Regions from separate parts of the Homo sapiens genome. Here region 2 is linked to region 1. Evidence: fine-mapped expression QTL. A gene starts in region 1. The other region holds a variant in brackets. All regions are shown on one strand. Distances are from middle to middle. Region 1 holds the start of C17orf67 (chromosome 17 open reading frame 67). Region 2 has its middle 65 kb from the start of C17orf67.

Region 1 (14,517 bases):
GTTTCCATAGAAAATAATGGAATAGACCAAAATGTTCAAACACAGGGTGTCTTTGGAGTGAGAGATGGTGATTCTTTTCTTCCTTTTTACTTTTTCAAATACTCTATAATGGGGATTGGGGGAAACCTGTGAGTGTGTGTGTGTGTGTGCACGCGTGTGTGTGACGGAGTCTCGCTCTGTCACCCAGGCTGGAGTGCAGTGGCACAATCTCGGCTCACTGCAACCTCCACCTCCTGAACTCATGTGATTCTCCTGCCTCAGGCTCCCGAGTAGCTGGGATTACAGGCACGCACCACCACACCCAGCTAATTTTTTATTTTTAGTAGAGATGGGGTTTCACCATGTTGGCCAGGCTTGTCTTCAACTCCTGGCCTCAAGGGATCCACCTGCCTTAGTCTCCCAAAGTGCTGGGATTACAGGTGTGAGCCACCATGCCCAGTCTGTCACTTTTTAAAAGTGTATTATTTTGTTATATCTTCAAATCTAAACTAATTTAAGCGTTCTGCATCAGCTAGGATTCATAAAAGACAATGACACTTTCACACACTGTGCAGGCTACTGAAGCAGAAGTTATGCTTTAGAGATCTCATCTAACCTGAGCCCAAGGAGGTGAACTGACAAGCACAAGGGGACACAGATGTCTGAGGTCCAGGTTCTCTTCCCAGGCCTCACAATCCCATCTAACACTCCTCCCACTTCATTACACTGCCCCTGCGTTTTCACAATACAGACTGTTAAATACTTCAGCCTCCAAACTCAAAAGTGTGGTCCTGGAACTAGCAGCAGCACCTTGGAGCTTCTTAGAAACGCAGGTTATCAGGCCTCTTCCCTGAGAAAGGAAATCAGAATCTGCATTTTAACAAGATTCCCAGGGCAAGGTTCTCAGAGAAGTAGCAGAATAAGAGAAAGTCTTTCTTTAATGGTTTAATTTCAGTTGAAGCTGACTTAGTTGACCAAGTTAAAACAGTGATCTCAGTCCCACCATTGGCTGTGTGACATGAAGCATGTTTCTCAACCTCTCTGTGCCTGGGTTTTTTCATCTGTAAAATGGGGATCATAAACCTACATGGTGCATAGCAAGTGCAGAGATGGAAGCAGGGTGCAGTACCTGTAAACAGTGCCTGTAAATAATGCTTCTTGTTGGTTATGTTTTGACAGGCCTGGCGCTCTGCACAAGCTGTGCAATGCTTGGCACATAGTTAAGTGCTCAGCCAGTACGTGTTTAATAAATAACCAACAAGAGCATAGGTTATCATTTATCAATTTTTGACTTGAACTGTCCCATTCTTTAGTATATAACATTCTCAAAACTGCCAGTTTTCTGCATCCCAACATTCAAAACTGTGCCAGCTCTCACCAGATGGTGAGAAAGTGCGGAGGCTGAAGGTCATAGATAAGCTTAACTCATACTGTAAATCATTCCTACCAGAATTTTTTTTGAGACAAGTAGATTTTATTTACAAATTTCTCCCTCTAAGTGATCATAAAATTAACCAATCCAGGATGCCCACTGCTGATTGAGTACAGGCAGAATGGTGGGGTGTTCTCTGGTGTCTGTTGTGGCTGTGGAATCCATGGTTACTAGGCAGAGCCCTGTGGCAGCACCTTGGAGCTTCTTAGAAATGCAGGTTATCAGGCCTCTTCCCTGAGAAAGGAAATCAGAATCTGCATTTTAACAAGATTCCCAGGGCAAGGTTCTCAGAGAAGTAGCAGAGTATCTTTAATGGTTTAATTTCAGTTGAAGCTGACTTGATTGACCAAGTTAAAACAGTGATCTCAGTCCCACTATTGGCCGTGTGGGACTGCAGTGTCATGGAGGGGCTGCGATCCTCTGTGGAGGTGGACCCTGGACTGAACCCTGGGAAGCTGGATGAGGAGATGGTGGGGCTGCCGCCCCATGACCCAAGTCCTCAAGTCACTTTCCACAGCCTCCATGGGAAGACACTGGTGTGTCCACACCTCACGGGCTTAGTGATGGGTCTTAGTTTTATTCAGACTTAGTCAATGTATTAGGAATGGACTCCGTGTAACGTGGGCATGGAGTATTTAACACACCTCAGACTGTGGTTTTCGAACCGCCTCCATTAGCATCATTTAAAAATGTGGATGCTGGGCCGGTCGCAGTGGCTCACACCTGTAATCCCAGCACTTTGGGAGGCCAAGGCAGGCGGATCGCGAGATCAGGAGTTCGAGATCATCCCAGCCAATATGGTGAAACCCCATCTCTACTAAAAATACAAAAATTAGCTCAGTGTACCCGCACTCCAGCCTGGCGACAGAACAAGACTCAGTCTCAAAAAAAAAAAAAAAAAGCCAGGCACGGCGGCTCACGCTTGTAATCCCAGCACTTTGGGAGGACAGGGTGGGTGGATCATCTGAGGTTGGGAGTTCTAGACCAGCCTGACCAACATGGAGAAATCCCATCTCTGCTAAAAATACAAAATTAGCTGGACGTGGTGGCGCATGCGTGTAATCCCAGCTACTCGGGAGGCTGAGGTAGGAGAATCGCTTGAACCCAGGAGGCGGAGGTTGTGGTGAGCCGGGATCACACCATTGCACTCCAGCCTGGGCAACAAGAGCAAAACTCTTGTCTCAAAAAAAAAAATGTGGATTCTGTGGTCCTGACCAGGTCTCTGGAATCAGAATATGAAATGCAACTAGGAATCCGCCTTCTTAACAAGTTCCCTAGGTAATTCTTTATTCAAAACTTTTTTGATGTTGTTTATATTTTGAAATCTGTCACACATACAGAAGAGTTTATAAACCATATATACATAGTTTCTAACATAAAAATTAAACAAACACCTGTGTACCCACTACCCAGGTTAACATATTGAAGATTGGGAGCTCTGGTGTGCCCAGTTGTTTGGTACACCTTCTCCCCCATCACAGGGAACTACTATCCTAACTTTCGTGGCTTTCATTTCCTTAGTCAACCTGTTAGGAATCGACTCCATGTAACATACGAAAAGCAGCTTGCAGAAACACTGGATTCACACATGGAGGAGAAATGCCAACTCACAGGCAAGCACAGTGATGACAAAAAAAAAAAAAAAAACACTGCAGAGATTGAGGGATCCTTAGAGGATGTCGGTGTATGAAAAAGTATTTAAACATCCCCAGTTTTGTAGATGCTTATAAGGTGAACAGCACCAACGCAATGCTGATGCAGAAATTCACATCCCAGCGGGGCACAGCTGCTCACACCTGTAATTTCAACACTTTGGGAGGCCGAGGTGGACAGATCACCTGAGTCAGGAGTTCAAGACCAGCCTGGCCAGCAGTGAAACCCATCTCTACTAACAATACAAAAATTAGCCAGGCATGGTGGCGGGCGCCTGTAATCCCAGCTACTCAGCAGGCTGGAGCAGGAGAATTGCTTGAACCTGGGAGGTGGAGATTGCAGTGAGCTGAGATCGCACCATTACACTCCAGCCTGGGCAACAAGAGCAAGACTCCATTGCAAAAAAATAAAATAAAATAAAAATCACATCCCTGGTTCAAGAACTCAAAGAAGAGAGGTTTAAAGAAGAAAAGAAAAAAGAAGAGAGATCCAGACTCTCTAAGCAACAAGAAGGGCTGGCAGAGACGTTATCTATGCTGGAGTCCCTGGAAGAGGCCATGGGAGTCACCCCATCACAAGGAGCTTTTCCACACCAGCCAGGCAGCCAAGAGCCAAGCCCTGCTGCTCCCTTCCCCAGGAGGGCTTGGGTCTTAGGGCAGCGCTGTTCTCTCCCCTCCACTCAGGCCTCCAGAGCTGCCAGGCCAGGTTCTCCCATGTTGACTCCATCCGAGGGTCCCTGAGGCCAGTGGATCTAGGGGAGCCCCTTTTTGTGTTGAAGTTTCCACCTTCCCCTTCTGACACTGCAGCCAGCTCCTTCATGGTTGATTCCTCCAAATCTAAAGAATACAGGAGACCCTGGAGCACATCAGCAAAGTCTGGATTCTCTCTCATTAGCAGCAAAAGAAATGCCATACTTTAGAGCCTCATCTTTTGCTCAAACTGAAACATCATCAAACTGCATTTCTCAAGACAATGCTCTGTAAATATTATTTATGTATTAATCTCCTAGGTGAACAATTTCTATTTTATCCTCTACAAAATTATTGCACTTTGAAAACAGATTTCATTTATCAATACTTTCGGTACTCAACTGCAATATTTTTTCTAGAGTTATAGTCCCAACAATTTTAAGTCATAAGTTAAAGCACCATTTTTTGGCTTGAGTATGTATTTGTTGAAAAATTTGGCCGGGCGTGGTGGCTCACACCTGTAATCCCAGCACTTTGGGAGGCTGAGGCAGGCGGATCATGAGGTCAGGAGATCAGGACCATCCTCGCTAACATGGTGAAATCCCGTCTCCACTAAAAACACAAAAAAAATTAGCCGGGCGTGGTGGCGGGCACCTGTAGTCCCAGCTACTCGGGAGGCTGAGGCAAGAGAATGGCGTGAACCTGGGAGGCGGAGCTTGCAGTGAGCCAAGATCGCACCACTGCACTCCAGTCTGGGTGACAGAGCGAGACTCCGTCTCAAAAAAAAAAAAAGAAAAAGAAAAAATTTATGCAAAGGGAGATTTATTTTGGGATAAAGTAAAAGGGAATGTTTAAAGAGAAATTTCTATAATATTTAGATTCAAATAGTGGATATTTTTCAAAAAACAAAATTAATAAATTACATGGAGATGGTTTTATTTCACTACAAGAGTGATGTAGGGAGAGATTTCTAAGAAGAAATCCCCTTGGACAACATTGGGGAACCCCACATCACTTTTCCCCATCTCCTCTCAATTAGCCACCACGCCTGGCTAATTTTTTTTTTGTATTTATACATTTTTATTTTGGTATGTAAGAGAGATACCTGACAAAAGTAACCTGAATTAAACTTTCCATTTAAACTTCCTCTGTGTCTTTATGTTGAGTCAGGCACTGTATTTAGATAACTGTAAATTATTTATCAAGTATGAATGGAGGTCACTCACCCTAATAGTTAAACAGACTGGATTTACATAAATGTGGGGCAATCTTGGTAGGGGTGGTCAGCAAGGCCTCTGTCGGGAGGGAGCACCTGGGCAACGAAGACATAGGGAAGAACTTTGTAGGAAAAGGGGGTAGAACTGACAATAGCCCTGAAGGGGGCATGAGTCTGGTGGGCGTGAGGACCATGCAGAGGCCAGAGTGGCCTGAACTCAGTGAACGATGGCCAGAGTGGTAAATGAGTGAAGGGTACCAGGGGTCTGAGAATGGAGGGGTTTTCCCCACAGTAAGAGTTTCATTTCAATATAAAAGTTCAGAGGCAGCCTGCAGGGAACATAGTAAAGCAGGAAGACCAGGTGGGAGGCTGTGACAGTCATTCAAGGGTGAGAATGGTGACAGCTGGACCAGGGGAGTAGTGGAGGGGGGGATGGAGAGATGGGCTCGAGTCCAGGACCTGTGCTGCTGCCAGAGACCGAGAGACTCACTGAGGCCTGCGGGTGCCAGAGAAAAGGGGAGTCAGGATGAGGACAAGGAGTCCACTGTGAGCATCTCCCTGAGGGGTGGTGTCCTTTGCTGGAACAGAGAGGGATGGCAAAGGACGGGCATCTGGATGATAAATTGGAATAAATGTTTGGGAGGAGACTTGGGAACAGGACCTTTTGACACTAGAGTAGAAATACCAAGTGCTCAGATGGACATAGGTGGAGAACTTGGAGGAGCAATCACAGCATCAGCAAGGAACGTGGAGGATCATTGGGGCGTGAAGTTACTATTACACAGAAGTCCAAGTCCTGGGCAGATTCCAAGGGGTGAATGAAATGAGTCTGCTAGTGACCAGAACCCTCCTCAGGTCTCCCAGTAGCCACAATACCACAAAAAGCCTCAAGAGTGACCTCCCCAAGTCTGTTCCCATTAGGGGACTTGAGTTGTGCAGAATCCGTATAAGACAGCCTCCACCAAACACGTGTCTATGCAGGTCCACGTGCCATGTACATACGTACGACTGATGAAGATCCCCTCCTTGACCAAGCTCTAGCCAGGCTTCCCTGAGCCCCCTTTTCAACTAGGCCTCCACCTTGGCCTATGAAATCTGCAGACTTCAGCAAAAAGGATCGGGTCCATCCTTCCCCCTATATCAAAACGCTTAAACACACAGTTTCTTTTTCTTTCTTTTTTTTTGAGACGGAGTTTCGCTCTGTCGCCCCGGCTGGAATACATTGGTGCGATCTCAGCTCACTGCAACCTCCGCCTCCTGGGTTAAGCAATTCTCTGCCTCAAGCCTCCCAAGTAGCTGGGACTACAGGCACTCACCACGATGCCCAGCTAATTTTTTGTATTTTTAGTAGAGACGGGGTTTCACCATCTTGACCAGGCTGATCTTGAATTCCTGACCCCGTGATGCACCTGCCTCGGCCTCCCAAAGTGTTGGGGTTACAGGCGTGAGCCACAGCGCCCGGCCTAAACACATAGTTTTTAACTGCTCAAAGCTGCATCCATAGGATGACCCCAGACCCCCTAAAGTATCTTCCTGGGAAAGCTGCCAAAAGAACTCACTGTTGGCTATTGCCAACACCTTACAAGCAGCCCCTGATGTCCCTTTCTTAAAGAGTTAACAACAACAACAAAAAACTAAACAATTGTGAATCCTTCCTCTGTCTCTCTGGGATGTAATGTCTCCTACACATCAGGAGTATCCTTCTCAAGAACCTGAAAGCCATTCCTCCAACATGCAATCACCAGGAAGCAAAGGGCCTATCTCCCAGTTACTGTGGGAGGATAGGACCCTGACTCCCATAACAGCCATCTAACAGGCACTGTCGCCTAACCTTACTTACACTGACCCACCCTTCACAAGTTTCACTTTCCTGACTACTGAGTTCCTGCTCATCCCCTTCACATTCCCTCCTCCTCCCTCTTAAACACCTAGTCACTTCTGCACAAAGTTCAGTTCCGTTCACGAGGTACCTTCTTCCCTATTACAATAGTATATTATTAAAATCTGCTTTACCACTTTTACTAGTGTCTAGCTTTATCTTCTACAGTTAATACAAATATACGCACATACACATGCATATATATGCACACATAATAATATATACATACACACATACACGTATATATACATCTATATGTGTATTCTTAATGAATGTTATGTCTTCTCTAATCGTTTGGAAGATATTATCAAGTATTTCTTTGCAGTTTTCCTATGATCTCTGCGTTTCTTTTCTGTTCCTTTGGTCCCTTGCTTCGGTGTGTGTTTTCTTTCCATCTTTTATGCTAGAGGAAGTCCGCAAGCAACAAGTGGTCCTCGGCTCCCACTCCTATGTATGTATGTAGTAGGAAGGAAGCCGCTGAGTGCAGCTGTGCGCGCCGGGGCGGTGCCTGTGCCTCTCTGGATTCCGTGTTTCTTCGGGGGTGCTGAGCAGCGGTGCTTCCGCGTCCGCGTTCTCCGGGTAGCTGATGTGCTGCAGGCTGCAGCCCGCGTGGTCGCGGCTCAGGTCCGTGTTGGGCTGGTAGGACTCCAGCGGGGAGCGAGCATTCCTCCGGAACCTGGGGCTGGACGACAGCAGCAGGAGGCGTGCTCCCATCTCCGGTAGTCCCCGGCTCCCGCTGCTCCCCTTTCTCCCCGGCCTCGGGCGCTGGCGGGCGCGGGCGAGGGGGTAGCGCAGGGGAGGCCCGCCCGCCACGGCAGGGGGCGGAAACCGCGGCCGGGCTCGGGGTCAGCGGCGACGAGCGGGCGGCTGCCCCGCTCGCCCTCGGCCTCCGCGCCCGCCCGCCGCTCCGCAGCGGAGGAGCCCTCAGGTTTGCGTTACTGCGGCCGCCACACCTACCTCAGCCCGCCGCGGCCAGGTCGGGCGGTGCCGCGCAGGCCGCCTCCCCCCCTCGCTTCCCAGTCGGCTTACGCATCCCCGGCGGCGGCGGCGCCGGCATCGGCTAGAGGTTCGGCTCAAGTCGGGGGCACTCGTGTCTGCGCCGAGCGGCGGGCGTGAGCGCGGCCCCTGGGCCCCGCGCGGCGCGGTGCTGCGAGGAGGATCCTCGTGGCCTTGCCCCGCCGGCGGCTTTCCAGAATTTTCTACGATTACGAAGTTTTGGCATTCAACCCTCCATCCTCTCAAACGCCCCACTGTTACTCCGCCCCCTTCCCCTAGGCCCCGCCCCCAGCCGCAGTGCCCTGCCTCTTCCATCCGTCTCCAGCCTCCTCCACGGCCCCGCCCCCTCAGGCCGGTCCGTCTCCCCTCCCACCTCACACCTCCGCCCCGCCCGTCAGCCCTGGCTCCGCCCAGCCACGGGGCTCGCCGCCACAGGCCCCGCCTCCAGCTCGCGGCCCCGCGCGCCGGATCGGCGTGCGTGCGGCTGGAGCCTTAAGCGTTTCCCCCGCCCGGCTTCATCCCTGCTGGCGGCCCAGCGTCGTTCTCCTCCTGCGCGAGGCGGCCAAGGCCTGCTGGCCCGGAGCCGCGCCTCCACCCGCGCGAGGTAGGGCTTCGAGGACCGGCGCGGCGCAGGTCTCCGGAGGCCTCCCGAGAGGGGCTAGGGTCGCCGGGCCGCGCGTGGGAGCGGGTGGGGCCCGGGAGGAGACGGCGCCCCGGAGGGGAGTGCGAGGCCTGGGCCGACGGTTACGGGCGCCGACCGGCGTTGCCTGGCCTGAACGCCCGGCCTTTCGGTGGAGGGCAGCTTGCCCCTGTATGTTGCGCCCTTCCGTGGGTCAGACCGGCGGCAAGGTGAGGCGGCGGCGGCAGCAGCAGCCGCCTTGGGCTCCTGGACGCGCTCCCGAGGTGGGGCGGGTTGGGGAGTGGGGATTGGAGCGTGATGGCTGGACGTCGCCTTCTCGGCGCGGCAGGTCCCGGGAGACGGGGGGACGAGGCGCAGTCCCGCCCTCGGGAGAGCGGAGCCACCTTCACTGAGGGCGCCCGGTTTGGCCCCGGAAAGGCAGGAAGGGGGCGGGGAAGGGATGGCGAGCTCGGGGTGCACCGCCTGTTTCTTTTCTGGTTAGGTATCGTCCTTGGAGAAGATGGAAGCGGAGAGGCGGCCGGCGCCGGGCTCGCCCTCCGAGGGCCTGTTTGCGGACGGGCACCTGATCTTGTGGACGCTGTGCTCGGTCCTGCTGCCGGTGTTCATCACCTTCTGGTGTAGCCTCCAGCGGTCGCGCCGGCAGCTGCACCGCAGGGACATCTTCCGCAAGAGCAAGCACGGGTGGCGCGACACGGACCTGTTCAGCCAGCCCACCTACTGCTGCGTGTGCGCGCAGCACATTCTGCAGGGCGCCTTCTGCGACTGCTGCGGGCTCCGCGTGGACGAGGGCTGCCTCAGGAAGGCCGACAAGCGCTTCCAGTGCAAGGAGATTATGCTCAAGAATGACACCAAGGTCCTGGACGCCATGCCCCACCACTGGATCCGGGGCAACGTGCCCCTGTGCAGTTACTGTATGGTTTGCAAGCAGCAGTGTGGCTGTCAACCCAAGCTTTGCGATTACAGGTATGGTCTTCGTGGACACTCACTGTCCCAGAATGCGCCGTGGGAATCAGGATTTCATAGAGTGGTGTAGAGGCCTGCTTTAATCTCTGCTGATGACCTAAACTCATTTTGAGGAAACAAGCTAATAAATAAACATCCCTGAGTTTGTGCAAGCGTGGCAGCTTTGCAGTAGTCATTTGCTGAGACGATGCATCCAGCCTCCACTCCTCAGCCAGCCTGCCCTTTTGGGTAATAAAACTTGGCTCCTAACGTTAATACAGAGGTTTCTAAGTGGTGCCTGCTTCATGGCCACTGTATATTTTAGCTTTTGTTCCTATCGATTATCTCCTTATTTTAAATAAGGAAAAATGAAATATGGACAAATTAACTTTTCCCTTCAGCCGCAAAACTGATGGGTCACAGGTTTTGTACTATGAATGTGCAGTGAAAACAAGTGTCATTCCAAGGCAGCACTTTTATGTCTTTTGCTAATATAGCTGTTGGTACCATAGCGAAATATACTCAAAAAGAACACTGAAAGGAATATTCCTTTTGACGCTTGGTCTTTCAGGACATGTAGAATCTTAGATAAGTGACCTTGATTAAGCCAAGAATATTTTAATGTCTTTTATATACACACTGGACAACACATTTTTGTCCTTAAATATTGTTTGAAAATAGGTGAAGATGTCCTTTGCTGATGTTGGAAATTGGTAAAGGAGAATGCTGCTTTGCAAATGATCTATTCTAACTCAGTTCACAGTTGAGAAAATTAAAGCCCGTTAGGTCCACTCTGGTAAAATAGGACTGGCCTCCAGGATTTCCAGCTCTGGACTAACACTTAGCCTCCTTTGAGCCTTAAGTCTGGACATCTTCATTGTAATGGGTTTTATTTCTGACAAGTAGAAAGGCGCATAAACATGCTTAAGAAATGAAATAGGCAGTAAATAGGAAGCTGCTTTTTAATTTTTTTAATTTTTTTTGCAGAAATTCTTTCATTAGCATGAACGCTATTATAATGTCAATACCTGTTTTTAAGTCTTATTTTAAATAATTTTACACATTATCAAAGAGGCTTAAGAATAAATGTTCAAAATAATGTATTCTAGACAACTACAAAGTTTTGTAACCATGCATTTTTATTTGGTATCTTTAAAAATTAAATGCTGTCCTTCTGGCATCAGTGAGAGCCAAGTTAGCAGGGACTTTAAATAAATTTCATAATGAATTGAGTATTGTTCTATTTCCTTCCCTTCTCTGGTGTAGCCTCCAGCAGTCTGTGTCTGTGCAGAATTATATTAAAAATGGTTTCCATAAATAACCGTATTTCAAATACTCTTGAACACATAATCATGCTTCTGATCCTCCACCCAAATGATCTTTCTAAAAATGCAAATCTGATCAAGTCCCTGCTCTGCTTAAAATCCTTTAAATTGCTCCCCATCGGGTAAGCTGACTGTTTTACAGTGTAAACCCCTAAGTGCTTTTTCACAGGGTACATAAGGTCCTAGTACTTTCTGGCCTCTGTCCTTTTAGTTTTATCTACCACCACCTGCATTAAACTTTATGCACCAGCAACACTAAGCTTCTTGTAATTTCCTTAAAACGTCAGGCATTTTCTGACATTTCTGCCCCTTTGCTCAAAGCTTTCCTCTCAGTATTCTTCTGGCTAGCTTCTAGGCACCCTTAAAGACCCATCCCATGTCCTTGTCCTTTCCTTCAGGAACTCTTACCTGATCTACTCAGCTTCCCTCCTCCCCCAGTTTTTCCTTTTTGGTGATAACGTAATATCCTATATCTCAGTGGTTCTCAAAGTAAGGTCCCTAGACCAGCAGCATCAGCATCTCTTCAAAATCTGTTAGAAATGCAAATTCTAGGGTTGCTAGATTTAGCAGATAAAAATAAAATATTGCAGAATTTGGAACATAAAAAGTTTCTCTGAAATTCAAATTCAACTAGGCATTGCCGTTTTTTTGTTTTTTTTTTCTGGCAACCCTAGCCCAACCCCAGACCTACTAAATCAGAAACTTGGGCTGGACATCAGCAGTCTTGGTTTTAACAGGCCCTACAGGTCCTTCTAAAGATGGAGAACCACTGCTATATTTACATATCTTTAAAAACATGCACCTCCGTCTCTTAATTTTGTATCCTCCCATTGAGCACACTGAATCTGTGTGATAATAAATCTTCTTTTCTTCATTAGTGCATTTTTACAGAGTAACCCCTTACCCCATGATAGAAATTGTCTCTGTGTAATTTAGGAGATGTTTATTATTCCCAAGAGAAGAGACCACAGTGTCCTGAAGTTGTACATATTCTACAGTGTTCTGAACTGATTTATGTTGGCCAATAATTGTATACAGGATTACAGTCTCCTGTGACCTTCTGTAGGAATGAGATATTTTGGAAGGAGAAACAAAATAAATAGCTACTTAGAACCTTTAAACACAGACCAGACAGTCCTCTGGATTTTATCTAGCCCTGAGGAGAGCTCCTTCCCTGTCTGCATCTCATTCTTAGGGAAGTGAGTGAACTCTGCAGACAAGTTACATTTCAAAGGACACTAATGAGAGATGATGACTGAGTTTAAAGCCTGCAGAATAAGTGAGAAAGGCCCTTTAATTTATACTCATTCGATCATTATACTTATTGAGCATCTATTTTTGTTCTAGACACTGCTAGAGTCTACTTTGTCTGTAGATTTTTTCTTTTTGTGTGCTCCTGTTTCTACCCCCAACCACTACATCTTCTTTTTCTTCTTCTTATCTCTCCTCTGACTAAAATAGGGAATTAGGTTATATTTTTACATATTCAATATATTTATTAAATGAACCTTTGTTTCTTGTAGTGTTCTATCTCATTAAGAGAAAAAGAACTTAAAGTGCTTTTTAATTTATTGGACTTTTTATTCATTACATCTACCCCACGCCTCACACACAATTACTGTGATTAGTAAAACAAAGCTGCTGACTCTCAGAAGGCAGTTAGATTGGCCTCAGTGTAACTAGTCTCAGCTTTGATCATAAATTTTGTTTCTATATTCTATTGGTGTGTGTTTATTCATTTCATTAATTATCTGAAACAGTGAAAGATACCAAATCATCTTCTAGAGCAGAGGTGGGCAAACTTACTGTAAAGAGCCAAAAGAATTTTCGGCTTTCCCAACCATTTCGTCTGTCATAATTACTTAACTCTGCCATAGTTGCAGTGCAAAACCAGCCATGGACAATACATAAATGAATGAGCTTACCTGTGTTCCAGTAAAACTTCATTCACAAAATCAGATGGCAGACATATTTGCAGTTTGCAGAACCCTGTTCTAGTGAATCTTATAAATGACCATCTCAACTTTATGTATAATTCAGCTGCCTCCTTCAGCACACTAAAAAAGAGAGCTATTGTGACCAGGTAATTTTTTAGAGAAAACAAGCCTTGTTAAACCTTTTTTTTTTCTATAAATACTACTGCACAAGAACGGCATATAAATTCATGAGGCATTCCATATTTTCATATGAAGGAACTTTCTAGAGTAATGTTCTATATCTTGATAAGGGTTTTAGTTACGTATGTTCATTTATCAAAACTCAGGAAGTATATACGTACATTTCATTGTATGTAAATTTTACATGAAAAGGAAAAAACATCATGAATTCTAGGTAGTGATAAGCCTATTTGCTGATGTATTCAGGAAGTATTCTGATGTCTTCAGTTTACTTGGAAATGTACTAAAAATAAGATGAATTAATGGATAGAAATGTGACAAAGCAATTACAGTAAGATGTTAATGGTAGAATGTAGGTGGTAGGCATACCTGTAAAAAATATTTTTAAGTAAAATATTTTAAAAAGCAAGTAAACTATTCTTGCTTTTAGAATATATTTGCTAAAATATTGAAGGGTGAGATCTCATACTGTCTGCAGTTTACTTTCAAATGATCAAAAAAATATGAATTTATATGGAAAGAGAATATTGTGGGAGAAAATGTCATTAAGAATCAGCGTGAAGGGTGGGCTTAGGGTATTCATTTTGCTATCCTTTTGACTTCTCTGAAAGTTTGGAATTTTTCAAAATAAAAAGAAAAAAGATGATAAGCTGTTACCCAATGACATGATGCTAAAGCTGAAATACCAAGACATTTTAGTAATGTCTTATCTTCCCAGTGAGTTTGAAATCTAGGTTGTTAAATACCAATTACAACATAGGTAAAGACAATAGGATTCAGGTTTGAATATGGTATTTCTAAAGAAGAATGTAATACTGAGTAATTAGTAAGCATTTTATTTTATTTTGTTTTTTGAGACAGGGTCTTACTCTATATTGCCTAGGCTGGAAGACGGTGGCAAGATTATGGCTTACTGCAGCCTTAGCCTCCCAGGTTCAAGCAATCCTCCCACCTCAGCCTTCCAAGTAGCTGGGACTACAGACATGCACCACCATGCCTGATATTTTTTTTTTCTTTTTTGTAGAGATAGGAGTATCACCATATTGCCCAGGCTGGTCTCAAATTCCTGGGCTCAAGCAATCCTCGCATCTTGGCCTCCCAAAGTGCTGGGATTGCAGGCGTAAGCCACCATGCCTGGCCCTAGTAAGCATTTTAGCTGTACCTTTATAGAGCAAAGGCTCATAATAGCTATTATCTTGGTTAAAATAATCTTTTCTGGGCTGAGCGCAGTGGCTCATGCCTGTAATCCCAGCACTTTGGGAGGCCAAGGCGGGCAGAGTTCGAGACCAGCCTGACCAATATGGAGAAACCCCATCTCTACTAAAAGTACAAAATTAGCCGAGTGTGGTGGCGCATGCCTGTAATCCCAGCTACTCGGGAGGCTGAGGCAGGAGAATTGCTTGAACCCAGGAGGCGGAGGTTGCTGTGAGCCGAGATCGCGCCATTGCACTCCAGTCTGGGCAACAAGAGCGAAACTCCATCTCAAAAAATAATAGTAATAATAATAATCTTTTCTGAAATTTATGAGAATTTAATAAATGATAAGTGTTCTGTCACAAATTATTGGGGGTAGAAAAGATGGTTTTATGAATCGTGTTAGGACAAGTGCTCTTGGGGGAGGGGAGAAGGTTAACTCTTCATAATACGCC
Region 2 (16,907 bases), 65 kb before region 1:
AGCAGCAGACAGGATGGGTAACCAGGGAAGGCAAAGAATTGGAAAAGCCTTTTTCAGCATTTTGAAAATAATTAGATGGGCCTGCTCCATGCTAGATTCCCACCATCTCTGGTTCAAGCATCAGCAACATGAATTCTCATGTCTCTGCAGCAGTATAATAATACCTTACGTTTACATAGTTTGTTAGGCTTGCAACATGCTTTCTCATGCATTATCTTATTGGATTTGAGTCTTCCAATATCCCTGAGAGGCAAGGAGTACCAGCATCCAAATTTCCATTTTATAGACAAGGAAATTAAGAGTCAGCATGATGCAAACATGATCAAAATCACAGAGCTGGGAAGCTCTGAGACCAAGCTCTAGTAGAACTGGAACCAAATCCAAACCTTCTGAGACAGGAAGCTTGTCACTGCCCTGCACTGTGATGCCAAGAAAGGACATCTCAGGGTCAAGCGTGGTGGCTCGTGCCTGTAATCCCAGCACTTTGGGAGGCCAAAGCAGGAGGATCACTTGAGCTTAGGAGCATGAGACCTGCCTGGGCAAATAGGAGACTCCATCTTTACAAAAAATATAAAAAACTAGTCAGGCATGGTGGGGCACACCTGTGGTCCCAGCTAATTGGGAGGCTGAGGTGGGAGGGTCATTTGGGTCTGGGAGGTTGAGGTTGCAATGAGCTTCAATAGTGACACTGCACTCCAGCCTGGGTGACAGAGAAAGACCCTGTCGAAGAAGGACAAGGAGAAGAGAAGAGAAGGGAAGGAAGGAAGGAAGGAAGGAAGGAAGGAAGGAAGGAAGGAAGGAAGGAAGGAAAGAAGGAAAGAAAAGAAAAGAGAAAAGAAAGAGAAAGAGAAACAGAAAAGGAGGAGGAGGGAGGGGAGGAAGGAAGAAGGAAGGAAGGAAGGAGAGAGAAACTTATGCATGTGCAAAGGTTATTGGGAACAAGTGAGTACCCTCATACACCTTCCTGGACCTGGAATGTCTTAATCCAGAGATGGCTAGCTGGAGACCCACTAGGTCAATCAGCATGCCTGAGAGTTTTGTTCAATAGTAGCTCAGTGTTCTCAGAAGTGCTCTATGTGTCACCATTCAGACATACCTAAACACAGTGGATGCCACCCCATGTAATCTCTCCACCTCTGTGCTTTTGTCACTCACACAAGGTTCCAGGCCTTAGAAAGGAGCATCTATTGGCTGAGCCTAGAAAGGGCACCTGTGTCTGAGCTGTCAGGAGCAAAGATAAAGAGGTATTTCTTATTCACCTTCCACAATGGGAAGCAAGATCCTCCATCCCAGGCCACCCTGTGTGACTGTGTATTACACAAAGGTAGGCTAAAGAGGATACATAGGGGCTGAAACCCAGCCTACTTCTGCTCTTCGAGTCCTGTGTCCTGGCCCAGGGCTTGGTACATGGAGCTTGTACTGAATTTTAGGCTCCAGCTACCCTCTCAGCTGAGCACTCTTGTGCAGTGTACAATCTGCAGAAGCAAACATGGCAGCCCTGCTTCCTCAGAAGAGCTGGCAACGCTAGATGCCACTCCCACATAGCAACAATTAGAGGGAGCCCAGTCATAGCTGCCCTTCTGGGACAGGGCGCACACTCCCACATCACCACACTCCCCACCATGCCTACCTCACTTGTTTGTGTCACCTGCCAGTCCCCTAAGGCATTTGAGTTTATGACCTGTCTGAAACAATATTTTTTTTTTACATTGGCTTATCCAGGTAATTAGTTTCATGGTCTATTTCTGAATGGCATTTTTCTTTCCCACCCAACCCCCTTTTCCAGCAGTCCTAGTTAATCTATTTATTTTTACTCTACCTCTTTCTAAAAATACATACAATACAACACGATTTTTTAAAAGTCAGACTCCTGGTAATCTCTGGAATGTGGGAAAAGCACTCTTACCACAAAGTTATATTAAGAAGTTTAATTATCAGAAAATTACTGTATAATAAATATATCAAACAGTAAGTATGTACACTGTATATGTACACTGCGAATTCCTGGGCAACCTCAGTCTATAAACCCATTCACCTCACCCACAACCTCAACCGACTCTTTATTCTTTTTCTTTGACTGGCACGGGAGACTTTGAGATACACTTGCTTCTGTATGTATAGCCTCCCACCTTTTCCAGGACCCACTAGGTATGCTGAGTTTTCCAGGCAGTCATGAGAACTTTGTCAGTTCATCCCAAAGTCTATGATCATTTCTCCTTTCTGTTGGTATCAGCCCACTCCCAAATTGTTTGCCATTTACTTTTGTAAGTCCTGTCTTTAAGGAAACCATGGGGCTCCTGGTTGCTATTGTAGGTTGTCTCAGTCAGCCACTACTGTGTAACAAACAACCACAAACATCACAGTGCCGTACAGCAGGAGGTATTTCTCGCTCCTGTGCCTGAGGGTCACATGGGGTGGCTTGGCTTCCGGCCACAGGTCTACAGGTCACCTGGGGCAGCTTTGTTCCAAATACCTTTCATCCTACTGGGCTTATATCGTGTTTTTCTCGTGGCAATGGCAGAAATGCAAGACAGCAAGCCCTACAGCACAAGCACATTTCAACTCCTGCTCATGTCACCTCCATTAACATCTCATTTGCAAAAACAAGTAAAATGGCAAGGCCCAAAGTCAAGGGCAGGGAAGTGTGCGTGCCCCCTGGAGATAGGTTGAAGGGGAAGGAGTGAATATCTACAGACAATGGCCACTGTTTGCCCTTTTGGTCACAAATATTCACTCCTTTCCCACACGCAAAATACACTCACTGCATCCCTAGGACACTCCAAAAATCTTATCCAATGCTGGTATTGAACTGGAAATCCATGTTCCATGCCAGATCTCACTGAGGCTTCTCTTGATTTGATAAGGACCCAAAAAATCAAAAAGACAAGTTGTTTTCCATATGTATCCAGGTGCGGTGGAACAGGTGTAGAATCAGAAAAACACTGCTACTTGGAAAGAAAAGGAATGAGAGTCACTCAGCACTCACTGGGCTGCAGCAATTCTGATGTTCTGCTGGGAATTTTTGGCCAGGTCCTCCTAATCCAGGAGTTGAGAATTTTCCTTGCCTGGCCCCCTGTTCCACACTCAGTCCTTTCTTCTCTGGGTTCTTGGCTCTGCCCTGTGAGAGGTTTTCTCTTCCCATCAGCCTTGATCACTTCAAAAGAGCACATCGGAGAATATGACAATGACCATACTCTTAGTCTGCTTCCTGTCTATAAGAAGGTGGGGCCCCAGAAATTTGTTTTTATCTCCAACAGTTTCATTTTGTTTTAGACAAGCCTGGTGGTAGTTTTGACAGTAAACTCTCTCAAAAATTTTGTGGGTTTTCTGTGCATTAGATTCCATTCAACTCCAGGCACCAAAAGCACAAAATTCACAATTTCTTGGAGACATGCTTCTCTTTGTCTGTAGACTCACACTCTTAATTTTTCTATGAGTTCCTTTGTCTAGCTGAAAGGGTACACTGGACACTTGCACCTTAACAGGAGCTGCATCCTAGCGGATGTCAGAATCAAAAACTTTAAGGAAAGCTAGTGCAATTGAGCAAAAAGTTTTACTGAGGGTTTCCTTGTGGCCAAAGGAAAACATAATGAGATGCACAATTAAAATATGCATTCTAGTTTGTTAATTGAGGCACCTTTTTTCCTAAGGACCATCAAGTACAGTAAGCAAGATAAAATTCAGATGCAGAAAACTTCCTACAGTGAAGACAACGTCCCACAGGCCTGTGAGCTCAATAATTACCTTGGGATTAAAAAGAAGGGCCTTGCCGGGCACAGGGGCTCACGCCTGTAATCCCAACACTTTGGGAGGCCGAGGCAGGCAGAGCACGAGGTCAGGAGATTGAGACTATCCTGGCTAACACAGTGAATCCCATCTCTACTAAAAATACAAAAAATTAGCCAGGCATGGAGTTGGCTGCCTTGCAGTCCCAGCTACTCAGGAGGCTGAGGCAGGAGAATGGCGTGAACCCCAGAGGCGGAGCATGCAGTGAGCCGAGATCGCACCACTGCACTCTAGCCTGGGCAACAGAGCGAGACTCCATCTCACACACAAAAATAAATAAATAAAAATAAAAAAAGAAGGGCCTTTCAGAGTTCATGAGAACCTCAAGCTAAGGCTTTATATCCTAAAGGCAGCATTCTATTTTGTGGGGGAGATTGGAACTTGGGATGAGGGAAAAAGAAAAAGCATTCAAAGCATCTTCCAAGAGAGAAAAACTCAAGATTTACCAAAATGTATTTTATTTTGTTTTTCAAGCTGCAAAAAGCTGAGGAGAATCATAAAATTATTTAGCTTAGTTAACTAGAGAGCAAGGAAGAAGATGTATTATTTCAGTTTCATGACTTGTTAATTTGCAGGTTTTATCATTTGTACTCTAACGACTTGGGGATATTACTTGGTCTGATGGCTGAGGGCTGATGCAGAGATTTGTTTTTTGAGTGTGTTAGGGAGCCAAGATCCTCGGTACTCCTACATCAGGTTTAGGGAATAGTCAACCACTCTGGCCCACGAGCAAGAGGCTATAATGTCTCTTCCAGCCTGGAGGGGCAGGATGCCAGAAAAGGAGAGTTATGACACTAGTAATAGAAAATGTTCGAAAGAGGCTGGGCGTGGCTCACATCTGTGATCCCACCACTTTGGGAGGCAGAGGTGGCAGGACCACTTGAGCCCAGGACTTTGAGACCAGCCTGGGCAACATAGGAAGACCCTGTCTCTACAAAAAATTTAAAATTAGCTGGGTGTGGTGGTGTGTGCCTTTAATCCCAGCTACTGGGGAGGCTGAGGCAGGAGGATAGCTTGAGCCCAGGAGGTTGAAGCTGCAGTGAGCCAGGATCACTGCACTCAAGCCTGGGCAACAAAATGAGATCCAGTCTCAAAAAAAACAAAAAGAAGAAAGAAAAGAAGAAAAGTTAAAAAAGAGAAGCTTCTTGTGTTAAAATTTTCTTTCACCATATGGAATGAGATTTGGTTCCTGGGACAACCCATTCCCAAACTCACTGCCTATTCGGGGCCTTTGTAAAACAGTGCCAACCCCTCCAGTCCAGTAGTTTATATTATTACATTTTGTTCTAGAAGCCAGGCTTCAAAATTCTGGGGGCTGCTTTGTCAGAGGAGGACGGGGAGATGCAGACATCATATTTATGGCATATCCTTTGTTAGGAATTTCAGAGAAGTGAACTTAGTTCGGAGCTACCTTGAGTATGACACTATCCTCCTTAATTTGACTCTGTTGGGCTTGAAGTGGAGGTGGGGGATCAGAGGAAGGAAGACAGGAGAGTTTACTGGATCCAAGAGGTAAAGTTGTAAAACCACCTAGGAGCTGATGTCACCAATACAAGGGGCAGTTTTGTCTCCTCAGCCTGTGTTCTGCCTGGCCCGTGGCTGAGTGCTGAAGCCAAAATTTGGTCAAACTCTTTCCCGGATTTCCAGCTGGGTCTCCCCTGTCCTGGATTACTGGCATTTTCTCTACTTACTAAATGTGCTTTGTGATCTCAGCTAGTGCGAAGCAGAAAACCCACTGCTAAACAGGGAAGCAACTGAAAACCCAAAATGCCAGCATGTCTAGTCAAGTACACGGTAATGCACTACCCCGTTCATTCATTAATCTCTCCATTCACAAATATCTGTTTTCTGTCCACCGCAGTGTGAGGGCTTTCAGGTCTAGAAGTTTCATTCAGAACTGAAAAAGGATAACCAGTGGTGGTCAGAGTGGTTAGAATAAGGGAAAGTGCCTTCAGTCTAGACAATGTGGTTGAGTGTAGCCTGGAGGCAGGGTCTCCATTAGAGATCCCTCTCCAGCTGGGGTATCCTAAAGAGTGGCATGAAGAATGAGATGGAGCCAGTAGGTTAGTAAAACAATTAAAGAACAAAATAAAGAGCATTCTCAGCACTGGCCCCCAAGGAAGGTTACGGATTGGAATAGAGCACAGAGAGCCTCATCTAAACCTCGCCAAAGAGACCAACCCCAGGGCACTGCGGAACTCGGGGCGGCCTCCCTGCTGTGGGGCAGGCATCCTTGGCGGGCAAGGAAATCATCAAAGGCTCCAGCAGCAGGAACGCTCCAGCCATCAGACAGGAGAAGACAGATTTCCTCTAAAATGTGCCTTTAAAGGGAGCTCATTTGCCTTCATGGGCCCCGGGAAAGCCTAAGATAGGTGCCATCCAGGAAACCCAGACTCTTTAAGATCAACACGGTTTAATGCAGCATAAGAGCCTTAGGTCAGACCAAGAAATGACTTCCTGACTGTAAGGGCTTATTGGACCATGAAAGCGGACTCCTAGAGAGACTGTGAAATTGCCTTCTTTCAAAGTTTTTAGATTTTTTTTTTTTTTTTTTTTTTTTGGTGGTGGGGAGGGGAGGCAGTGGATTGAGGGCCAGCCCAGAGGCTGGCAGAGAGGTTTGATGAATTCTCAGGCCACTCCATCTCACCCCAGGAGGCACTTTCCAGCCTGAGAACTGAGGTTTCCCCCTTTCTGGGTAGATCATTGGGTCCAGAAAACCAGCAGGGGCAGCAAATATTAAACTCTGCCTAAATTGCTCTAATGTCCTTGGGGGCAACAGGAGTAGGATTAAGCCTTCATTTTTTACTTTCTTCTTTTACTTTCCAGAGATGGGTCAACTGGGTAGCAGGCTCCAAATCTTCAAACACTAAATAAGAAATGTTGTCAGGCTGGAAACCATTTTAATATTTTAAATACGTGGGGTTTCTCCAGCATTGCAACAGCTGTGGGACGTAAAATAAAATCCATTTCTCTCCGGCCCCTGGGCAGCTCTAAAGTATCAAATGGTCAATCTGGATGATGGGAGGTGGGAGGTAGAAGGTGAGAGGTTGGGGGCTTGGCAGGAAAGGTTGGGGCAGAAAGTGCATTTTCTTCCTGTTGTGGAACATTTTTTTAAAATAATCAGATCCAAACCCTCAGAGTCCTGGGGAGCTATAGATTTTGTATCAGAAGAATGTCTGAGAGTTTTGGAAATGCTCCCAAAATTTGAATACAAACTCCCTGGGTGACCCAGTCAGATGCAAGCAGGCTGGCCTCCGGCAGCTGGACACTGATATTCACTGGTTTGAAGAAGAGAGAAAGGGTGGGAGGATGGGGTAGGATGGAGCCCTTTCATCTGGGCTGTTGGGATTTGTGATCCTCCTCCAGGATAATTCTCAATGGGCTTGTAAGCACAATTGCCACACAGAGCAGATGCCACAGCCTACTTGGTTAGATGAGTCCACGTATTTAATGAATATTTATTGGGCCCTTGCATTGCTTCAGGAAGTGAGATAAGGGGTTGGAGCTGGGCTTCTGATGGTGGCACCAGTGGCCCTGATCTTACCTGATCTTCCCTCCCTGTTATGTCCCTATCCTTGGTGCTTTGGAGAGCACAGAACTATTCATTCATTCATTCATTCAATTATTCAATGCCTTCAGTAAATACTCATTGCACTCTTCCCAAGAGCTAAAAATACAGCAAGGAATAAGACATTTCCCGCCCACTGCCCTGCTCCTATGGGCCTCACATCCTAGTGACAGGACACCCATAAACAATGAACAATGATATATAATAGAGATACATAGATAGAAGAATGCTTATATTTATCAATAGAAAAATGATTAAATTTATGTATGTATCAAATAATTTTAAATGGTGTTGAGTGCTATGAAGAGAACAAACCAGGCTCAGGTAATAGAGAGTGACTGGAGTGGGATCCAATATTAGCTCAGGTGGGTGGGAAAGGCCTCTCTGTGACACGTACGCTGACACCTCCTGCATGTCCAGGAGCCAGCCTGGCTCCTGAAGTCAGGGGAAGAAGCTCCAGACAGAGAACCTGCCAGGCGCCAAGGCCACGGAGCAAAAAGGAGCTTGGCATGTTCAAGGAACAGAAGAAGGACAGGGTGGCTAGGGCATAGGGAAGGGGCAGAGTTGGAAAGAATCATATAGATCCAGCTGGAACTTAACCCAGAATTAGTGCCAGCTAGAAATTTAGAGGTCACTGGATTCAATTCCCAGATTTACACTTGGAAAATCTGAAGCTCACAGAGAAAGTGTGACTCTCTCAGGGTGACCCAACAATCGGGAGCAGAGCCAGGACAGGTCCCTGTGCCTGTGGACACTCCTGTGTAGTGTCACTCCACTGTTCATATCTGTCACATGTGTCAAGGCTCACGTGTGTGCAGCACAGACCCTCCAGCTGATTCCTGCACATTTAGTGACCCCCGGAGACCAGCGTGGCCCCTCATGGAGGAGTCAAGTTTGGAAAAAAAGCAACAGCAGCAGAAGGTGGTAAAAGAGAAGAATGAAGAACCCAGACTTCAGTGTTAGCCAGAGCTAACCTCAAGTTCACACTGCCCCTTATTACATCTATGACCTTGGAGACATCATTTAATCTCTGTGAG[C/T]TTCAATCTCACCATCTGTGAAGTGAGATCACAGTCCCACCCCATAGATGTACTGTGGGGCGGGTATGAGATGGTGCATCGGGAAGACTTAGCACAATATCAGGTGCATATGAAAAGCCCCGTTACAGGGTCATTGTTATATGATTATTATATAGTTCCAGGCCTAAAGGAACTTCCCTCATCATGCTGGAGAAAACATCCATGCACAAACACTGCAAACACTTTACTCTTCTTCATGCACTCGCCAAATATTTATTGAGCACTCGTTCTGTGAAAGGCGCTTGCACTGATCACCAGAAATATCTCAGAGAACAAACACAAATGTAGCCCTACAAATGCAGAGGCAGGCAACTATCCACATAGCCACATTTAAAAAAAAGTGCAAAATTGTCATCAACAAGTACTAGGAGAGGGGGATTTGCAGTACTTTGAGAGACCATCAGGATTTCAGTGACTTGGTCAGGGAGATCAGCACAGGCAGCATTAGGTCTCCCTGAGAAAGTAAAGCTTGGGATGTTACATGATGAGCTGGGGGTAGCCAGGCAATGGATGAGAAGCAAAGGACAGTGTTCCAGGCAGAAGGAATGGCATGTCTTAAGACCCTGGGATGGCAGGCGCACGGTGGGTGTGAATAACTGAGCAGAGGCTGGACCACTAAGATCCTTGTGCCAAGATAGGGAGTTTGAGTTTTATTCTGAGAATAGTAAGAAGCATTAAAGGAGATTTAAGCAGGATGCTTGGAATATAATTTTGCCAGTCTCTCAAATGTATTAATTCATTCAACAAACATTTACTGGGTGCTTTGTACGTACAAAAGACTGTTCAAGACACATGAGGATAGAGAATTTTCCCCAGCCACAAAGTCTCTTACAGAATAGTGGAGCAGATAGACATATTAGCAACTGTTAACTATAGAGGAAAGAGCACTGGACTTGAGTATTAAAGACATAGGTTCAAGTTTCAATTCTACCTTTTATTGAACAACTAGAGTTTCATGAGGACAATGACTGAGTTTAATTATGTCTGGGACCCATCACCTGACATGCAGGAGAACCAGCAAACTTAGAATGATTATGTCACCTTGGGAAATATCAATAAGAGAAGTATCAACAAGGCCTAATTTTTGTTTCATGTTCTATCATCTTTAAAGACCTTTCACATACTGGATCTTATTTTACCCCCACAATATCCCTGTTAATGTTGTGGATATGAGGTGAATTCAGCACTGGCTACATAGTTTGCGGAGCCAAGTTCAAAATGAAATGTGGAGCTCTTTGTCCAATTAATAAGAATTTCAAGACAATGACAGCAGAGCATTAAACTAAGTGCAGGACTGTTGTGGGCAAGGGATCCAGTGTCGCTGCACGAGTTGTGCATACATAAAGCCAGCCCTGAGTAAGTTCTATTTCATTCACTTTACAGATGAGAAAACCAAGGCACATGGTAGAGTGACTCTGTCAGTGTCACTCAGCTCACTGAAAGAGTGAGGCCTCAAAATAAACCCAGGACTTCTGACTTCCTGCTGAAACAGGACTGCCCTGGTTTGTGCCTGAGTTGCAGTGTTCCTGGAAGGGCAGTTTGAAGCATCTGTTTAAAAGGTGATATAGACAAAGAAATTGAAGGGAAATGTTCAGGATGCTGCCCCGTGTGAAACCTTTCAACAATTCCCACTGCTTTAGGACAAAGCCTAAAGGCTTAGACTGATGCACAGAGTCCTTTCCTGGTCTGACCCCTGATTAAAATTTTCCAGCTGCACTGCCCAACTCTGCCCGCTCCTTCAAAATGTGCTTTACAACATACACCTTCTTGCCATTTCCCAGCTGGGCCTTGCTCCTTCTGGCCTCCAAGCCTTTGTTCCTGGCCCTCTCTCTGCCTCAGATGCTGTGTTATGAAGGGGGACTACAAGTAAGCCAGCTGAGGAAGGCAGCGGGATGAGGAAAGGCAGCTGAGGCACAGGGAAATCATGACTAATTTTTCTGCATCTTTGGAACAGTTATACATCCTGCCATCCATCCACCTTTCCATCCACCCATCCACCTATCACCTATTCATTTTTCCATCTACCCTTTCACCTATAGACCCATCCCCCTTCCACTCATCTATCCATCCATCCATCTTTCCTCCATCCATCTATCCATCATCCATCTATTCATACACTCATCCATCCACCCTTTCATCCATCTATTCATCCATCCTTCCATTCATTCATCTATCCATCATCCATCTATCCATCCATCCATCTATCTATTCATCCACCCACCTACCCACCCATTCATCTATTCATTCACCTATCCATCTACCCTTCAATCCATCTATCCACCCATACATGCATACATCCACCCATCCATCCAATCATCTTTCCATCCCTCTATCCCTTCATCCATCCATCCATATTTCCACTCACCCACCCATCCATCTTTCCATTCATTCAACAATTATTCACTTAGTCTCATATGCTATATGCCAGGCACTATGTGAGGCACTGGAGATCCATCAATGAATAAGCTACACTTCCTCCCCACAACAGAGCTCACAGGACAAACAAATATCACCCATAGCTTGAATCCCCAATTTCATAACCTGTATGAATCCAGACTCCCTTCTCACAACTTATGGAAATTCCACTTTCTTCTTCTTGATCCTGTCTCCATTCCTGTGTCTATAGGTGTCATCCCAGGATGGTCTTGAGGCAGCTGGGACACAGTTCTAAGCCCCTTTACCATTTTTCCACAAGAAATACAAATCCAGCAGTGATGTTGTGGGTTTAGTGATTTGACTGTAGATCTGAGAAGCTACTATAAAGGATTATGTTCTACATGCTACAGCCTTCCACCATCTTGCTGCTTTCCCACCAATAATTGTCCAGTTCCCCAAAGCCCAAGCTATTGACATGGAACCCTCCCTGCTGCACAGACTCCTCGAAGTGTAATCTAGTCCTCACTCCCTAATATGACATACTGCCCCTGCCCCAGGACAGTCAGCTGTCCCTCGAATCTGGTAAATATAATGCGCTCCAACTCATGACACATGTAAATAGACTGCTACAATACAGAGAACAGAGAGCTCTACAACAGAGGTAAGTTCAGGATGCACACACAGAGGTGGCAGAGAAAAGCCAAACTAAACTAGTCTTGGGCTTCGAGAGTGGCTTCTGGGAAAGATTCTTAGATAAAGAGAGGAGTGATGAAGAGGATATTTCAAGCACAACAAATAACAAGGACAAAGACATCAGAAAGTTTACTGTGCTTTGCAATGGGGACAAAAGTGGTTCAATAGGACTAGAGGATACAGTACGGGGAGCAGCAGCAGACAACACTGGAGAGGGAGGCAGGAGGGGGTTGCCCATAAAAGGTGGGGCAGTCCATGCTCGGGACTCTGGACTCTAAGCTACAGCAGCAGAACTGCTACTGAGAGCTCCTAAGCCTAGAAGTGGCTTGATTTGAGAATCTTAGGAAGACTGTAGGGGCTGGCATATGGGGTCACTCAACCCTAACCTCAAGGCTGTGGGAGCCTCCAGCTCAAGGCCAAAATCATTACAAGGCAGCAGTCATTTCCCCTTCCAAGGAGTAGGTATGGAACCAGACCAGTCCTGGAGATTAAGGTTTTGTGATAAAGACAGACAGTCAGAGCCCAGAGTGGCCGTCCTTGTGTCCCCGGGGAGGTGGCCTAATGCCCACTCTGTTTTCTAACAACTTTTCTTGGGTATGTATCAGACCAAAAACTAGGTCCGCAAGATTCACGAGACCTGGTCAGAGAATTCATACTCATTTTCAAATGTCTTTGGTCAGCAAAATCTCACATGCACTTTTTCCAGAGTCCTTTCCTCCCCTTCACATCCCCACTCCCACCCAGCTGCTGCTAATTGTACAAGCCACATGCACTACAAGGGAAATGGAATCAGTCTGGTCCTGGTTCATTCACCTTTGAATCCTCAAATAGGCTGTTTTGTAAGAGACCCTAGACTTCCAAGACACCCTCGCAGGATCCCTTAGACAGCTTCTTGTTTTGAATCAGGAAATTTTATTTTGCCAGAACTTGATGTTCAAGCTCAATATTAATGTCAGAACCCACGAAATGTGAGCGGGTTCTAAATTTGGAAAAACATGGTCTCTAATATCTCCCCAAAGCATTCCTTCAGCTATTGACTTTGGAGGCAACTTCTCTATACTATGTAGCTGTCCATTGTTTGCTCTGAATGACACAGAGCCTTCAAACACCGGAGGTGCTTACTCAGCGGATCAATATATCATCACCCCCATCATCTGCATACATTGGTTGAACATCGTAGAGCAAATCCAACATACAGCCTGCTTCCTGTCTTGGCAAAGCCGCCGGATTGAGTCCTCTTTCCATGCAACACTTCTGCCCTGACTTAAACTTTGACTCCAGTGTCCTTTCTGAGCTATTTGCACTGTGAACACAGCGCCTAAAAAGATTTATTAAAAAAAATTAAAAAGCAGGGGGCGAGTGTCATTTTTAGAAAGGCGAGACACCCAACACATCCTACTCTGAGTAGATTTCTTTGACAGCTTGTGATGTTGCCTGAATGGTAAATATATCCTCAGACTCCAAGTAAATAGTCCGTGGCATGTAACTTGGGTATAAAAGAGGAAATTTTACACAACGTGGCCACAGATGCCTTGTCATTTCCCAGAAAATTAGAGGGTCTTCCAGTGACCCTGTAAATTTATCTCACAAGTACTCTTCCACAACTTCAGGAACAGATGGGGCCTGTTTTGATAATGTTTTCCAGTCCCCATAGATAATATGCTGGGGGTGGCGGGAGAGGGGGAGGAGCAAGACAGCCTGCTATTGCTCCCAGAAGCACAGCCTGTGGGCGATCTGTGTCTCTGGTCATCTGAAAGACACTTTGTTAGCACCAAGCATTTCATTGCTGAAGGGAGCAGCAGATAATTTTTTTTATTGGGTAGCCTCTTTACTAAAGGTTGAAGATGTGAAAGGATTGGCTAAAAGACAGGTTCAAACCCAGAGGATGGGCTGGAGTCAAAGAGAGACTGCAAGGCATCTTGAAGGCATCCTTCTGCCTCCAGGAAGGATCAGAGAGGTTTTGAACCCAGAGGAAGATTTCACAGCCTCTCGTGGCAACTTTTTTCAGCATCTCTGCAGAGATGGAGAAATACAAATCAATATCTTCCAGGTAGTAACTATTGGTTCACCTTAACCCAGGCCCTTCCATCAGTAATCATAATAGCTAATATCGACTATTCCCAGGCACTATGCTGAGCACTTGATGTGCTCAAGTTATATTCAGTGTTATATTCAAGACATATTTCAGTGTTAGGTGAAATATATCATCTATTCCTCACCACCCTGGATGCCAGAGGAGGAAAATGAGGATCAAAGAGCTCACAGCCACGTCCAGTGTCAGCAGCTGGTGAGGACAGAGCCGGGAGCAGAGGTATGATCTGTGCAAGTCTCTTGGGCGCTCTATGCCTGGGTTTCCTTACCTGTAAAGTGAATGGACCTAGTAACAATATAATACCAAGGCTTCAAGGGCTTTTTGTTTTTGTTTTTCACTTTTTCACTTTGTCTTTTTTGACCAGGTCATGGTTCTTATTTCCAACTCTCGTCATTCATTTGTCCATTCCACAGTGTTATTGAGTACTTTCTATTTATGTCTCTGCCATTTAGACTTTTAATCAGAGCCTTTATGATTAGCCAATTCATCGCCTCTTCACAGTGGGCTTTACACATCATTATCATGCCTTTAACAAGCATCTCGTTATGCTACTGTCTGTTTTACAAAAACTAACTGATATCTGTTGTTATTTGGCTGTTCACAAAGTCCCTTCACATACACTTACTCATGTCATCCTTATGAAAACACAGCAAAGAAAAGAAAAATAGATATAATATTGTTTATTATTATTATTTTCCTATTTTACCCACAAGTAAGATCCAGGCACATTAAGTGAATGCTGGAGCCAGAATTCAACCCCAGTCTTGTGATACATAAACCGGAACCCTTTCCACTACCACCCACAAAATAAATGTGGACATGGCCTTCCGGGAGCTGCCACAGAACAGCAGCGTTCATAGAAACACACCACAAGCACAGAGGGTGGGGAAGCTTGGTGGTTAAGCACACGGACTCTTAAATTAGACAGCCTTGGCTCTAAAACTTGCCTCTGACACTCACCAGCTGGATGACCTTGGGCAAGTGACTTAACCTCTTGATAGATCAGTTTCCTTATGGCTAAAAAGGGGTTAATAATAGTACCTACCTCAGAGGATGACTGTGGAAATCAATGACTAATATACATAAAGCTCTTAGGACAGTGTTTCAATTTAATTAATATCATCTAATTGTTATTTGTCTTAACATTATTATAGATGCACCTGAAAGCAAACAGAGGCTGTGAAGGGCAGGACAGAGTTGAGCAAAGAGGCCTACCTCCCCCACGGGGAAGAAAACTAACTGAAACTAACAGTCAAGAGATGTGGTTCTATTCCTCATTCTGCCACTTACCATCTGTGCAATCTTGAACCAATCAGTCACTTTACTCCATTTAGGTTTCCTCATCTGTCAGATGAGAAAAGTCAACCAGATTGGGTAGGGGAGGCCTAGCAAATGTCCACTGACTCCCTCATGTCATCCAGTGCCCCTGTAGACTCCGAGGGGTACACCCAGCCACCCCACTTGAATTAAGACTGACTAGTGAAGATACCCACTTAAGACCAGGTTGACCAGCTCATCCTGGTTTGCCTGGGACTTTCCTAGTTCTAAAATGAAAGTTTCATATCCCAGGAACATAATTCCAGAAAAACCAGGATGGTTGATCATCCTAATTAGGTAAAAAATTATATCATCTAGTCCATCATTTTCCCAAACTTTGCTGCTTATGTTACCACCACCATATATTTTGCCATAGCTGTGTAGGGAACTGTAAAATTACTCAAATACATTTACTTCAGAAGAATATATTACATCACTACTGCCATAGTCAGGATAGACCAGGTTAGCTGAGGCAACAGACAGCCCCACAAAGTAGGGGGCTGGAATATGCAGTGAACAGCACTACAATTGTAAAAGCAAACTAGCGTCGCTTGCCATAAAGTGAAGGAAAAATAAAAAATTGATGAAAATAAAACAACTATCACTAGGTAGCAGTGCTGGCTGAGGTTCCGTCTGGCCCCAGGGGCCTGCTCACTGTTTGTTAAAAAGGAGAGATAAGTAAGCATTAAAAAATCCTGGAATTTTCTCCTTTTCAGAGCAGGATTAAAAATGAAGTAAGTTCATCACTCTGTGATTTAATGTAATTTAATGCCATGTCTGTTTGCTACTTAACATTATCTCCCTGCCATCAGCAGAGCACCTCACACACATTTGGGAAGTTGGAATCAGAGAGAGTGTAAAGGTGAGAGGATGAAGGCTCGGTCATCCATTTAAATTTAGGGGCACTCCTCCTTCCAAAGCAGCTCTTCCCACTAATTAATACCTAATCCAGACAGGGCGAGGTGGCTCACGCCTGTAATCTCAGCCACTCGGGAGTCTGAGGCAGGAGGACCCCTTGAGCCCACGGGTTCAAGACTAACCTGGGCAACATATTGAGCTCCCTATCTCTACAAAGAAATTTAAAAATTAGCCAGGCATGGTGGCATGCACCTGTAGTCCTAGCTACTCGGGAGGCTGAGGCAGGTGTGTCACTTGAGCCCAGGAGTTCAAGCCTGCAGTGAGCTATCATCCTGCCACTGCACTTCAGCCTAAGCAATAGAGTGAGACTCTGTCTCCATTTTTATATATATATAATATTATATTATATATTATTATATATAATACTACATGTTATATTAATTTACTTAAATAAATTATATATATTAATATATTATTTATTATATTAGTATACATAACATATATACAAATATGTATAATACACTATATATATATATATACACACACACACACACACACACACACACACACACACCAAGTCAGACAGGACATCAATTGAGAGAAGATGCCCTTACAAACTTGCTTTTTTCAGGAATTTTCGCCTTGCCCCAAAGGCTACCTAGGAAGTACTATAATGGGCTAAAGGACAGAGAGGAGCACCCAAGAAAGGTCCTTGTTCCAACAAGATCACATGGGAAGAATTTCAGCAAAACAAAGCAGCAGCAAAGGACCTATGGCTTTTCGACCTCAACAAGGTTCTGCCAACTCCCCAAAGCAAGCTAAGAATGACTGAAGATACATCATGTGGCTGAAATTTCAAGTCACTACTATTTCTTCCAAAAACATAAAAGTATAAGAAATGGTTTGCCACCTAAGATTGGTTTCCCAAACAAATGCCAAATCATCCTGTAGGAGAGCCTAACCCCGCCATGTGTGGTCTTCCCTTATATGGCCCCTCCAATTCCAGGAACGCCATTCACCTTCTCCATTCCAGCACTGCCCTGCTCACTCGGTTGGGACCTCACCCACTCCATGGCATTAAATACCATCTATAAGCCAATGATTCACAATCTACAAGACCAGCCCAGCCTATCAGCTGCAT

What was found. PIP is the estimated chance that this variant, and not a neighbour inherited with it, causes the effect.
Region 2: its variant is fine-mapped to the expression of C17orf67 in whole blood (INTERVAL, PIP above 0.99).

Annotation. Positions count from the first base shown.
Region 1 is chr17:56,825,813-56,840,329 of GRCh38, forward strand. C17orf67 (chromosome 17 open reading frame 67) reads right to left here and starts at 8,108. Exons shown (of 8, transcript NM_001085430.4): 1 at 7,806-8,108; 2 at 7,086-7,530. DGKE (diacylglycerol kinase epsilon) reads left to right here and starts at 8,339. Exons shown (of 12, transcript NM_003647.3): 1 at 8,339-8,448; 2 at 8,966-9,447. The coding sequence starts at 8,984. LOC124904036 (a long non-coding RNA gene) reads right to left here. Exons shown (of 3, transcript XR_007065857.1): 3 at 10,548-12,808. RefSeq lists silencers at 7,336-7,630, 7,604-8,673 and enhancers at 7,998-8,595, 9,064-9,463, 9,195-9,792, 11,683-12,238.
Region 2 is chr17:56,760,006-56,776,912 of GRCh38, forward strand. No RefSeq gene overlaps it. Among named protein-coding and RNA genes, the nearest start is that of C17orf67, 65 kb to the right of the region's middle. The variant C/T (reference allele first, on the strand shown) is at 8,392.